Regions from separate parts of the Homo sapiens genome. Here region 1 is linked to region 2. The links come from fine-mapping of genetic effects on gene expression. A gene starts in region 2. The other region holds a variant in brackets. All regions are shown on one strand. Distances are between the middles of the regions.

What was found. PIP is the estimated chance that this variant, and not a neighbour inherited with it, causes the effect.
Region 1: its variant is fine-mapped to the expression of VIPR1 in whole blood (TOPMed, PIP above 0.99). The same link has a PIP of 0.9 or more in CD4 T cells, T cells and blood mononuclear cells.

The regions. Positions count from the first base shown.
Region 1 is chr3:42,524,474-42,529,695 of GRCh38, reverse strand. VIPR1 (vasoactive intestinal peptide receptor 1) reads right to left here. Exons shown (of 13, transcript NM_004624.4): 4 at 3,703-3,809; 5 at 2,200-2,303; 6 at 1,573-1,705. Among named protein-coding and RNA genes, the nearest start is that of VIPR1-AS1, 5.5 kb to the left of the region's middle. RefSeq lists a silencer at 4,882-5,052. The variant G/A (reference allele first, on the strand shown) is at 2,748.
Region 2 is chr3:42,500,262-42,505,731 of GRCh38, reverse strand. VIPR1 (vasoactive intestinal peptide receptor 1) reads right to left here and starts at 3,089. Exons shown (of 13, transcript NM_004624.4): 1 at 2,919-3,089. The coding sequence starts at 2,996. RefSeq lists silencers at 2,831-3,330, 3,391-3,490 and an enhancer at 4,018-4,591.

The DNA of each region.
Region 1 (5,222 bases), 24 kb before region 2:
TCTGGCTTCCACTTCCCCCTGTACCCAAAACATTGGTTCCCACCCTTCCTTCCTGTACCCTTGGTTTGCGACATCCTCAGAGAGAAGCCTCCCCCTGCCCCCACCACTCCCTTTGGTTGGAAAGTCCTTCCTCAGGTCTCGCTTCAGTCCCTCCAGTTACAGGAGTTCTTGCCTCCCCATCTTCCTCCCATTTGCTTTTGGAGAATAACTCTTTTTTTTTTTTTTTTTTTTGAGATGGAGTCTTGCTCTGTCACCTAGGCTGGAGTGCAATGGCATGATCTCGGCTCATTGCAACCTCTGCCTCCTTGGTTCAAACGATTATTCTGCCTCAGCCTTCTGAGTAGCTGGGATTACAGGTGCTGACCACCACACTCAGCTAATTTTTTTTATTTTTGTATTTTTAGTAGAGACTGGGTTTCACCATGTTGGTCAGGCTGGTCTTGAACTCCTGACCTCATGATCCGCCCAACTCAGCCTCCAGAAGTGCTGGGATTACAGGCGTGAGCCATAATCCGCGTCTGGCCATAACTCAGCTCTTTACCAGGACAGTTATCTGTGCTTCTTCCTAGTCTTAGAAAAGCTTCGCAGTAATGAATTGGGAAGCCAGTCTCCATAATTATCCGTAACATGTGCACAGGAGGCAGCAGGTTCCTCCACAGGTCCTGTGGCTCACAATGCTCATGTCTGACTTGGCCTCACAGCTCCTGGGACAGAACCTCTGAGAAGCTCTGGGAATGGCCAAAGTGGGTCCCCTAGGTTTTCTCTCCCCCTTGTTGAAATGCCTGAGATTCCAGTATGATCATTTCACTCTTTGGGGAGAAGGTACTGCTGACCCCTGATATAATGCACTGCCTCTGGGGTCATGCATGAAGCAATGAGTTACTGACCACAAGGAATGAGTGGGGGCTGGGGCTGATCTCAAGCTCTCTGTCAAAGCTTGGGGCACTCAGAGAGGGTCCCTAAGAATCCCTTGGAGATGGCCCCCTTAGTGACTGGCAATGAATTCCTTAGATGATCCCTTTACCTCTCTTCCCTAGGAAGGCCCAGAACCAGCCTGCTGTCAGGATCAGAACAAAAGAGGAGGACTGCATATGTATGGACCCACTCCAGATGGCACGGGGACGGGGGGAGTAGGAAAAGTGGCATGGTGAGCAGAGCCCTGGCTATGCAGGTGGCAGATGGCAGAGTTGGAAGGAATCTTGGAATTCCTTGCACAGATGGGGAAACTGAGGCTGTAAGTTCCCCAAGGCCACATAGGAAGTTAGCAACAGGTGGGACAGGTGCTCTGGGCTGTGGCCATGAAGTGTCCCATTTCCCATCTGCTTTTCTCACTGGCGGCGGCAGGTCTGTGAGCACCCAGATGGGTGAGCAACATCTCCTGTTGCCGGAGGGGAGTGTGATTTGAGTACTGCCAGGTGGGGTTGGGTGGGGGTTAGGCTATCCTTGGATTGAGGGGTGGGGTGGGAGGGAAGAGGGAGGAGGGAGAGGGAGAAGCAGGGGGAGAAGAGGAGATTACAGTGGTTAAAGATAACGGCGAGACTGAGGGAGGTGGGCCAGGGCCAGGATCCTCACCGAGCCCTCGGAGCACTGGTCCGACTCCCCGCTGTCGAAGAGGGCCAAGTCTTTGATGAAGACAGCGGCAGCCCTCAGGATGAAGGATATGAAGAGGTGCATGTGGATGTAGTTCCGCGTGCAGTGGAGCTTCCTGTGTGGGGTGGGCAGATCTGGGAGGCCAAAGGGGCCTTGGATCCCCACCCCAGCCAATGCTGTCCTATGTGCTGAGCAAGGGTGGGGCAGGGGAGCATGTGTCCTCCAGAGGGCAGGCCCCGCCTCAAAGGGGATCCCATCCTGAAATACGAGCCCCACCCCCAGGTACCCCATCCACCTGTGCAACTGGGCTCCCAAGGGCCTCAACCTCGTGTGTGGCCCCAGAAGCCTCATTCCTGTGTGCAGGCCCCACTCTCTGGTGCCCTGTCCCCAGGTGCAGGGCCATCCTAGGGGAGACTAGGCTGCAACACATGGAAGAGCTCAGCCACCTGCCTTCTCCAGGGGAAGCTGGCCTGGCAGGAGCTGGGGAGTATGTGCTGCTGGGGGGCAACAGTGGAGGGGTCGGGGCACGCCTGGGCCACGCTGGGCTCCACTGTGGGAGGGACACTTGCCAGGTTTGCTTTGAGGCCTGTGACTTGGGCTGGGCCTCACCTGAACAGGCTCAGGATAGCTGTGGCGACCAGAAGGGTGGCGAGGGACAGGCCGTAGCCAATGGTGTAGCCGGTCTTCACAGAACCGTAGAACATGGTCTGCTGCTGTTGGAGGGACAGGGAGAGGCTCTTGGGTGGTGGGGTGGGAGGCTCATCTAGGGGGTATTGGCAGGGGTGGGGTGCCCTACACACTCTGCCTGCCCAACCCTGCCTCAGCAAATGAGGAGGCTGAGGTCTGGGGCTCCCAAGAGCAGCTGAGCCCCTGACCCCTAACGCCCTGGTTTCTACAGACAGGGCAGGACTGTGTCTTAGGGTGGGGTGGGGGTTGAATGTACTTCCTGTCTTTGCTTCTTTACGAGGGACAAGTTGGTGAGGGAGAGAATGAAGACCTTGCACGTCCCTTTTGTTAATTTCATGTCTCCAGCCATGTGCCCGGCTTCCCTTCTGTGCCAGCTCTGAGCTGGGCACCCTAGGGGTGGGGTCTGCTTGCCCTTCAGACACCCCTCGAGGCCCTGTCTCTGTATAGGGAGGAGAGGTATGCGAGGTTGC[G/A]GGATGTCGAAGAAGACACTGGCACTAGTATGTCCCATTTTGGGCCCTTGGGAGTTGGGGTCGGTGGGATGAGGGCAGTCTGGCCTTTCCGGTGGAGGAGGGCAAAGCTAGGCCCCGAGGGTGTCTCGCTTGGTCCCCTCTCCTGATGCCCTCCCCATGGACACAGGTGCAGTGCAGCACGACAGCCACTAGGCAAGCCACTCCTTCCTGTCAGCCTCCCACGCTTGCCTGAGGAGAGGCAAGTGGTTAAGGGGGAATGAGGGCCTATAGCTCCAGTGGGCTTCAAAGGCCTCTGAAGAAATTGCTGTCCTCGGGGGTGGGTGGAGTGAAAGCCCGGTCTGAGAAGGGCGCCTGAGGGTGGGGCAGATGCCATCGCAGACAGACACACACACATGCATTTGCACCCCAAAGCAGTGAGGGGCTCCTAGCTGAGGACTCCAGCCTCCCCATCAATGTCCTTACCAGGCTCCCCAGTCTTTACAGAGACCATGTTTTAACTGCTCCGGGGAAGATATCTGTCCTGGGACTGAGAATGACAGGCTCTGTCCCTGTTCCTGACTGGCTATTTGGTAGCCAAGTCTGGTTCCTTCCAGGACCTGCAGCAACTCGGTTTCCCCTCTGGATGGGATGGGGTGCTGGTGTCTGCCTGCCCTGCCAACTCCCGGGCTGAAGTGAGGTTCCCATGAGGCAGTAGGGTGGCCCAGCCTGGGGGAGCTGCTTCAGCTTTTGCTGCTCTGGGGGCCCCTCCTGTGGGAAAGCCTCCTCCCATACCCTGTCAGGGGGAGCCAAGGGTTGGGACCCCAGAAAGGCAGGCCTGGAGGAGGCTAGAGGAGGGCAGACTCCAGGAGTCCTGTTCCCACACAGACAGCAACCACACCCCTCGGTGGGAGAGATCAAAGTCTCCTAGGTGGGCCCCGGCGCTCTGCAGGTGAGGTGGGGGTGCCCTGAGACCCACCTCATCCAAACTCGCTGCCTTGTCATCCAAACCACAGGCAATGGGGTACGGGCCAGGCTCCAGGTGCGTCCAGCCTTCGTCGGTGCAGCTGCGGCTTACATTGCGGCCTGGGTGGAGGGCAGGGGCAAGGACAAAGGCTGAGGCCGGGAGCATGGGGACCTGGCTGTCTCTGCTTGGAACAAGGCAGAGAATTCAGCCCTACTCCCACCAACCCTGGTGCTGTCAGGTTCCAGCTGCCCTGACCCAGTTACCCAGGGCACCGTGGGGGCACCTGGGGCAGGGAGAAGCCTCTTCAGGGCTCCCGCACCGATGATAGAATCAGAGCAGACATTCTTGGGCTCAGCCCTTTTGTTATGGTCTGAACCTGACCCCAAGTACAACATACACTCTTATCCTTGTCACAGACCCTGCCTGGATCCTTGTCACAGAATGATTCCTGACCCTTGCCGTGAGCAGAATGCTGACCCTTGTCACAAGGCCACGGCTGGGGGAAGGGGCCCAGGCCTGCCCGGTCCTCCTCAGTCAGCCTGCCTGGGCCTGTGGGGCTGGGTTTCTTCTCACACCTGGAAGGGCTTAGATGTGCTGCTGGAGGGGGAGCAGGAGTGTGGGGGTGAGGAGGGGTGGGGTTGGGGAACCTGTGCAGGCAAAGGCATGTGAGGGGGAATCAGGCAGCACAGCATGGCAGGAGCTTGGGGCTGAAACAAGCAGAGGCTGAGGCTCCAGGCAAGCTGCACTGTCCACTGTCCTCAGAGGCTTGAAGCTGCAGCAAAGAGACAGGACCGCTTAGGGGGTATGTGAGGTGAGGGGTACCACTGAGGCTCCCCACTCTCCAGCACTGGGGAGGTGTCCTCTCCCCAGAGAGGGAGAGGATGGGTTGAATAGAAATTAGATGAGCCAGAGAAGAATCACGCTTCCCCATCTCAGTACCCGTTCATCACCACCACCACCACCGCCATAGTCACCATGAGCAGCATCAGCAGCATCACTGTTGTCAGCCTCATCACAATGACAGGTTTTGAGTACTTTTCAAATGTCAGTGCTGGTCAAGCACTTTAGGCACATCCTGTTTAATTTCCTCAATCATCCAGTGAGGAAGTTAACTCCATTTCACAGTTAAGAAGTGGAGGCCCCAAGAGGTTGGTTACTTGCCCAAGGCTACATAGAGAGGACAGGATAGAGCTGATTTGGTCTCCAGAGTCTTCCCAGGTAAGCTTGGTTCTCACCTGCATGGAGGTGACCTGAGGACTTATTTCGGTGACCAGATAAAGAGCTGCAGGAGGGTCAAGCTGTTCTATGAGCTCAGGAAGTGTCACTGGGCACGTGTGTTTATTTCCAAACTTTGCCGTATGCCCGGAATATACCAGGTGATTCCATATTCACCATTTCTGTAAATCCTCCTGGCAACCCTTGGAAAGAGGTCTTGTCACCCTACTTCATGGATGAAGAACTGAGGGACAGCTAGGGGTGGGGATGGGACAGCCAGGAAAGAGCAGCCGTGGGCTGGGTCTATTTCCACCGCA
Region 2 (5,470 bases):
CTCCTGTTTCCAGCCTGGGCTCCCCAAGGATGTCCCACAAACCTCAGAGAAGGCATAGTCTTAGTGCACCAGGACAGGAGGGTAGAAACTTCCAAAAGGGCTCGCTTTTCCAGCATGGTACCCTGGGAGCCCTGGCCAGGCCTAACTGAGGTGGTAACCTCACTTGAGGAGGAGGCCTGACCCAGATGCAGCCATGTTTCCCAAAGCTCACAGGGTGGCCTGCTGGGGGCCAAGAGGGCCTGGGCAGCTGTGGTCCGCCTCTGGAGAGGCTAGAGGCAGGTGGCAGGGGCAGCAGGATGCCGGTGGCAAGGCAAGGCCTTCAGGAGCTTGTGGCCACTGATCAACCTCAGAGTTGGGGAGAAGTCGAGCCTCTCCCAGTCCCTGGGACTCCTCCTTCTGGGGGCAGGCCCATTGGTCCTGTCAACAGAGGCTGTTTTATGGTTTAGGGTGAAAGATTGGCCCATCTGGTCAAACTCTTTAGGGCACAGTCCTGCTTCTTCCAGGAGCCTCCCCTGACTGTTCCTCTCAGCAACCCCTGCCCCAGTTCTAGGAGGCTGTACCCCACATCCACCTGGACTCTTTCTCCTAAGTCACTGGGTCTGGTCTCCCACACCAGATAGAGAATTTCCCACGAGGAGGCCTGTGACCCTCCTCCCCCAGCCTCGTACTGGGCATTGCCCTGAGCAGCTCTGCTTCTGGATGAGGAGTCCCTGTGCCTGCTGTCCGGGGGGCAGGGGCAGTGGAAGGCTTGACAGGTGGCCTTGGGGCAGACTTCCTCCTCTGAGACACTGGAGGTTTTCTTTCCTTTTTTTTTTTTTTTTTTTTTTTTGCCTCCCTTTTCAGAGATTTCTCCTTCCCAGGCTGAAGTCAGGGCACCATAAACAGGAGTGATAAGGCCTTGGGCCTTCAACTTGAACTTTGCAGCTGCCATTTTATGACTCTGATAACTCCTGTCACCCCGCCCCCCCACCCCGCCGTCACACCGAGTCCGGCTAGAGCAGGTTTGCCCCATTCCATGAGGGAGCGATTGGTAGCTGGTGGGGAGGAGGGAGAATCAGGGAGGGAAATAGGGACCCCTCACTCCAGCCTGCCCTCACCCAGTCCTGGTTGAGTCCCTTCTCCTCTCTCTGTGGACCCAGCCCCTGCACTGGGCTGTAAGAAACATGGGGATGTAAGAGACCCCAGCCCCTGACCTTATAGGATGGCCAGAATAGCCCAGCCTGGGAGGTGGGTAGGGCTGAAGGGTGGGGTTAGAGGGGGAAGGGTTGAGTTGGCTGGAGCAATCAGGGAAGGCTGTCTGGAGGAGGAGATAGAGTTGGGCACTAAACGAATAAGATGTGGAAAGACAGGGGGAGGGTAGGCATTGGAGGGAGGAGACAGATTTGGGCTGTCTCAGGAAGTGTGAAGTAGAAGTGGCCTGGTGTGAAAGGAGACCTCTCTGAATCCACTCTGCCCCTGGGCTCAGAAGCTTCTCGGGATGGAGGAATGGGGTGACAACAGTGGTCCCAAGATCCCCGGTTCATCCAAGAAGAGTTTGAGTGGCTTGAACCTGGGGTTGGGAGGGCCAGATGGTGGTTGGAGAGGCCTGAAGGCTTCATGCAAGTTGTGCCAGAGCTGTGGCCTCTGGGACAGAGCTTGGTAAGATTTTGAGTGCTCAGGAGGTGGGTCTCATGGCTGTCATGGGTGGAGGTGAGGCTCCTGCCAATTGTCAGAGGTCCGCTCCTAGGACAGGCAATGAGCTTCCCATTCCCAGGGTGCTCAAGACATCCGCTAGATGGAAACACAGAGATACCTGCTCTGGTGGAGGTGATGGTAAGGGAAGTGACCATGGGAGAGAATGAACTAGATAATCAAGATTCCTCACCCTCCCCCAGCCAACTTGGAGTGGGCATTTAAGGCCCTGCCTAAGCAGCAACTCTAGATTACTCAAAGTCTGGGGTAGGGAGAAAATCAACCTTTGTCTAGGTCTAACTGGTGGGAGACAGATGTGGCTCTTGTGTCTCTGGACCTCGCTTTGCCCATCTGTAAAATGGGCTTCAGTAGACTCAATGAGTGCTGAGGTCTCCCCTGTTCTAGAGTGAGATGATCCATGCATCTCCTGCCTCAATCAGCATCTGCCTCCCAGCCCAGGTAAGCCATCCACAGGAACACATATCACACCCACACATGGGGCACACGAGTACACATGTATCAAGGGCATACACATACCCACGTTGAGAGGAAGCAGAAGTGGGAGGAAGAGGGAGGCCACTGCTTGTTGGCATTGGCTCCCTGCTCAGCTCTCTCCATGTACAGGCCTGGCCCCTCCTGTTAACCACCACCCTTAGCCCCTCACTGCCCACCAGCTTCCACCTTGGGGTCTGGTACCTTTTTGCTTTGCTCAGTGGGAGGGCACACGGAGGGATGTGCCTGTCACTCACCTGATCCCAAGAACCCCTTCTCAAGTCCTGGGGCCCCCAGCACTGGTTCTGATGCTGACAGCCCACAGGCACCTCCAGACGGTCACAGCACACAAGAACGGCCCCTCACATCCTCCCTCTCACCTACGGTGTACCAAACCTTCCATCTCAATCGGCCGCAGTACCTGACTCTGCACCCACTGGCCGCCCCACCCCGCTGCGCACCCACAACCACGACAAGGAAGGCAAGTCTGGGGCCCACTCTTCCCCGCTGCCCCTCCACTGATGCTGTGCCTGCTCCGGGCTGCGCTGGGAGGGACTGGGCACGACCAATATCCCAGCCCTCGCGTCTAGGTTCGGTCTGGAGCGGTGGGAGGAGGCGAGTCGAGATGCTTGATGTCCCCTATTCCTCTTACACAGACACGCGCACAGACGGCCCGGCTCCCGCCATCCCCCACCTCCCCCGCCCTCCGCAACCCCCAGGCTGCCGGGACTCTGGGCGGCCGGGCGAACACTCACCGCCGGCCCAAGGGCCCAGGCGAGGGCGCCTGCCAGCACGCATAGCCAGCGGGCGGGCAGCGGACTTGGCGGGCGCATGGTCTGCCCTGAGCCCGCGGCGGGCGGCCCCGCGCGGGCAAAGAGCTGGCGGGCGGCGCACCAGGCGGGCGATGGCCGGGAGCCTGGCAGAGTGGCGCTGGCGCTGTGGCCCCAGAGCTAAGAGGCGCAGCTCAGGGCTGGGGGCGGGCCCCGGGGGCTCGTCTGACGGGCGGCGGATCTAGCCAATGGATGGGTGGAGGCGGGGCCGCCGCGCAGGTATGGGGCGGGGCTGGGGAGCCCCTGCCAGTGAGGAAGCTCTGCTCTCTCTTTGCCAATCCCACACCTTGGTCTTCCGTCGTGAGACATTTATAGGCCTTCGCCCCTCCGGGCTCATCACCCGGGAATCTCGAGACCCGAACACATTCCATCCTTCCATGCTTAGCTCACGACCTTCGCAAGCTCCCACCTCTGTATCCACCCTCAGCCCCATCCCAGGGCGCTCCTCATGTCTACCCTCGGAGCCACCTCCTCCAGGAGGCCTCCCCGCCAGCCTCCCCATTTCCCACCTGTGCGTCTCCGAGGGTTCGTGCGCGCAAATCCGATTACGAGACAGGAAGTGCCACTTATCTTCCCAGGCTGCGAGCTGGGGCCCAGCAAGTGTCCAGGCGCTGACAGAGATCGGGTTGTTTGATCAATTTTCAACAACCCCAATTCATCCTTCGCGCCGAAGAAGCCAGGCGAGAGGAAGCGAGGGCTCGAAAGAGGCCCGACTCTGGGTTCCTTGGTGTTCCCTGCTCCCGGGTGACCTGGTGGGGCGCGCTCAGCACCTGTTGGGTGCCCTGGCCCTTCAAGCCTCGGGAGACCTGCTCCAGGGAGGATGAGGTGTCCGCACCCTCGCGGGTCTCGTCCAGGGCACCTCCCCAGGGAGGCTGGGCTGAAGTGCCAGCGCCCTCGCGTGGGGAGCGAGGTCTGCTCCCAGCCCGCAGGCCGACTCCGCAGCTGACCTAAAACGATCCACAGACGTCGTCCTCCTCCTGCATTCCCTATTTTACAGCTGGGGATACTGGGGTCCAGAGAGGGGCCAGGACCCTGGCCGCCTGCCTTTGGTGCTGAGCTTCCAAGGGGCGGCTGCTCGGCCGCTGGGTGACACCGGGTCAGCCCCTTTTCTCGTTTATTCGTCCCTGGCATGGGGAGCGGGGTCACCAGCTCTGCGCCCTGGGAGCGCGTCTTCTTGTGGACCAAGCGCAGGTGGCTGCTAGCCCTCTTTCTACGGGCTCGAGCCTGCACAATCGAGGCTGGAGATGTGGTCGCGGCGGCAGGATAGAGTGGCTGGCGGAGCCGTGTGACAGAAGGAGAGGCGGAGTTCAGTGGAGAGGCGGAGAGGGCAGCGGGTCCCAGAGCCCTGAGCAGAATGTGCGGCTACCTGAAGGAGGTCCCGCGCTAGGCTTTGGCTGAACAGCAGGCGCGCAGGAGCTCCCTGAGGACCCACCAGGGCTTCCCTCCCTACAGAGAGGGAACGTTGGGATGCTGCCATGGGGTGGGCTTGAGGGGAGTGGGGGAAAGCCGGGAAGGGATGAGTGCCCTGGCCCTTTCTTCAGGGCGTACTTACACTTTCTTTCCACTCTCTCTTCTTTCTCTTCTTTCTTCCTCCCTTCCAGCATTCCATCCCCTGCACTTGCTCTTTTTCCCTTTCCTCCCTCTCCTCCTTCCCTTCATTAAAGGGAACCTCGCCACCATGGAGCCCCTCCCTCCTTTCTTCCATGCACATTTATTAATCTCTTTCTGTGTGCCAGGCCCTGTGCTGTGCACTGGGGGCACAGAGGTGGATGGGCAGCATCCCCTTGCCATGAGGGGAACTTGGGGAGCTACTGTACTCCCTGCAATTTCTACCTCCTTCCCGATATAATCAGTGAGGCTGGACACAGGCCTTTCCTTAGATTTGGGAGCTGTGGAGATGCCTCTGTCCTAGCCTTTCTTGGGTTTGTACTCGATCTCCCAATGGCGGGAGTGTTTGAATCATCCTCAGCCATCTCCTCAGCTATCCACACCCCTGACGGCTGCTGTTAGCTCAGAAATCAGGGGTCTTTGTCTCTCCTTATGACCCTGTGTACCCCGTCTCGGGTCTCAGTTCCCTGGCAGGACAGTGGAATTGTGTCTTTTTCCTGGGAAGTTACTTGTGCTGGCATGGTGTCCTAGGAGCCCTAGATGTGAAGAGCAAACCTGTGGGTTTGGGGTGTCATGAATCCTCAGCCCTCACTCCTCAACACATACATACACACACAGCACCTAGCCAGCTGCAGGATGCTGAAATCCTATCATTAATGTGTCATGCCCCCAGGGTTGTTGAAGTTCTCCTGCTCTCCTGGAGGACAAGGTTCTTGGACACTTGAGGGTATATGATGGGTGTGAGGATTGGAGAGGCAGACCTCACTTTGCCATGTGACCCACCAGTGAATGGCTGGTGGGCAGGGTGGGGAGGGAGGGAGAGGGACTGGCTACCAGTGGGGATGGGTTGCCTTCCCCTGGCTCTGGAG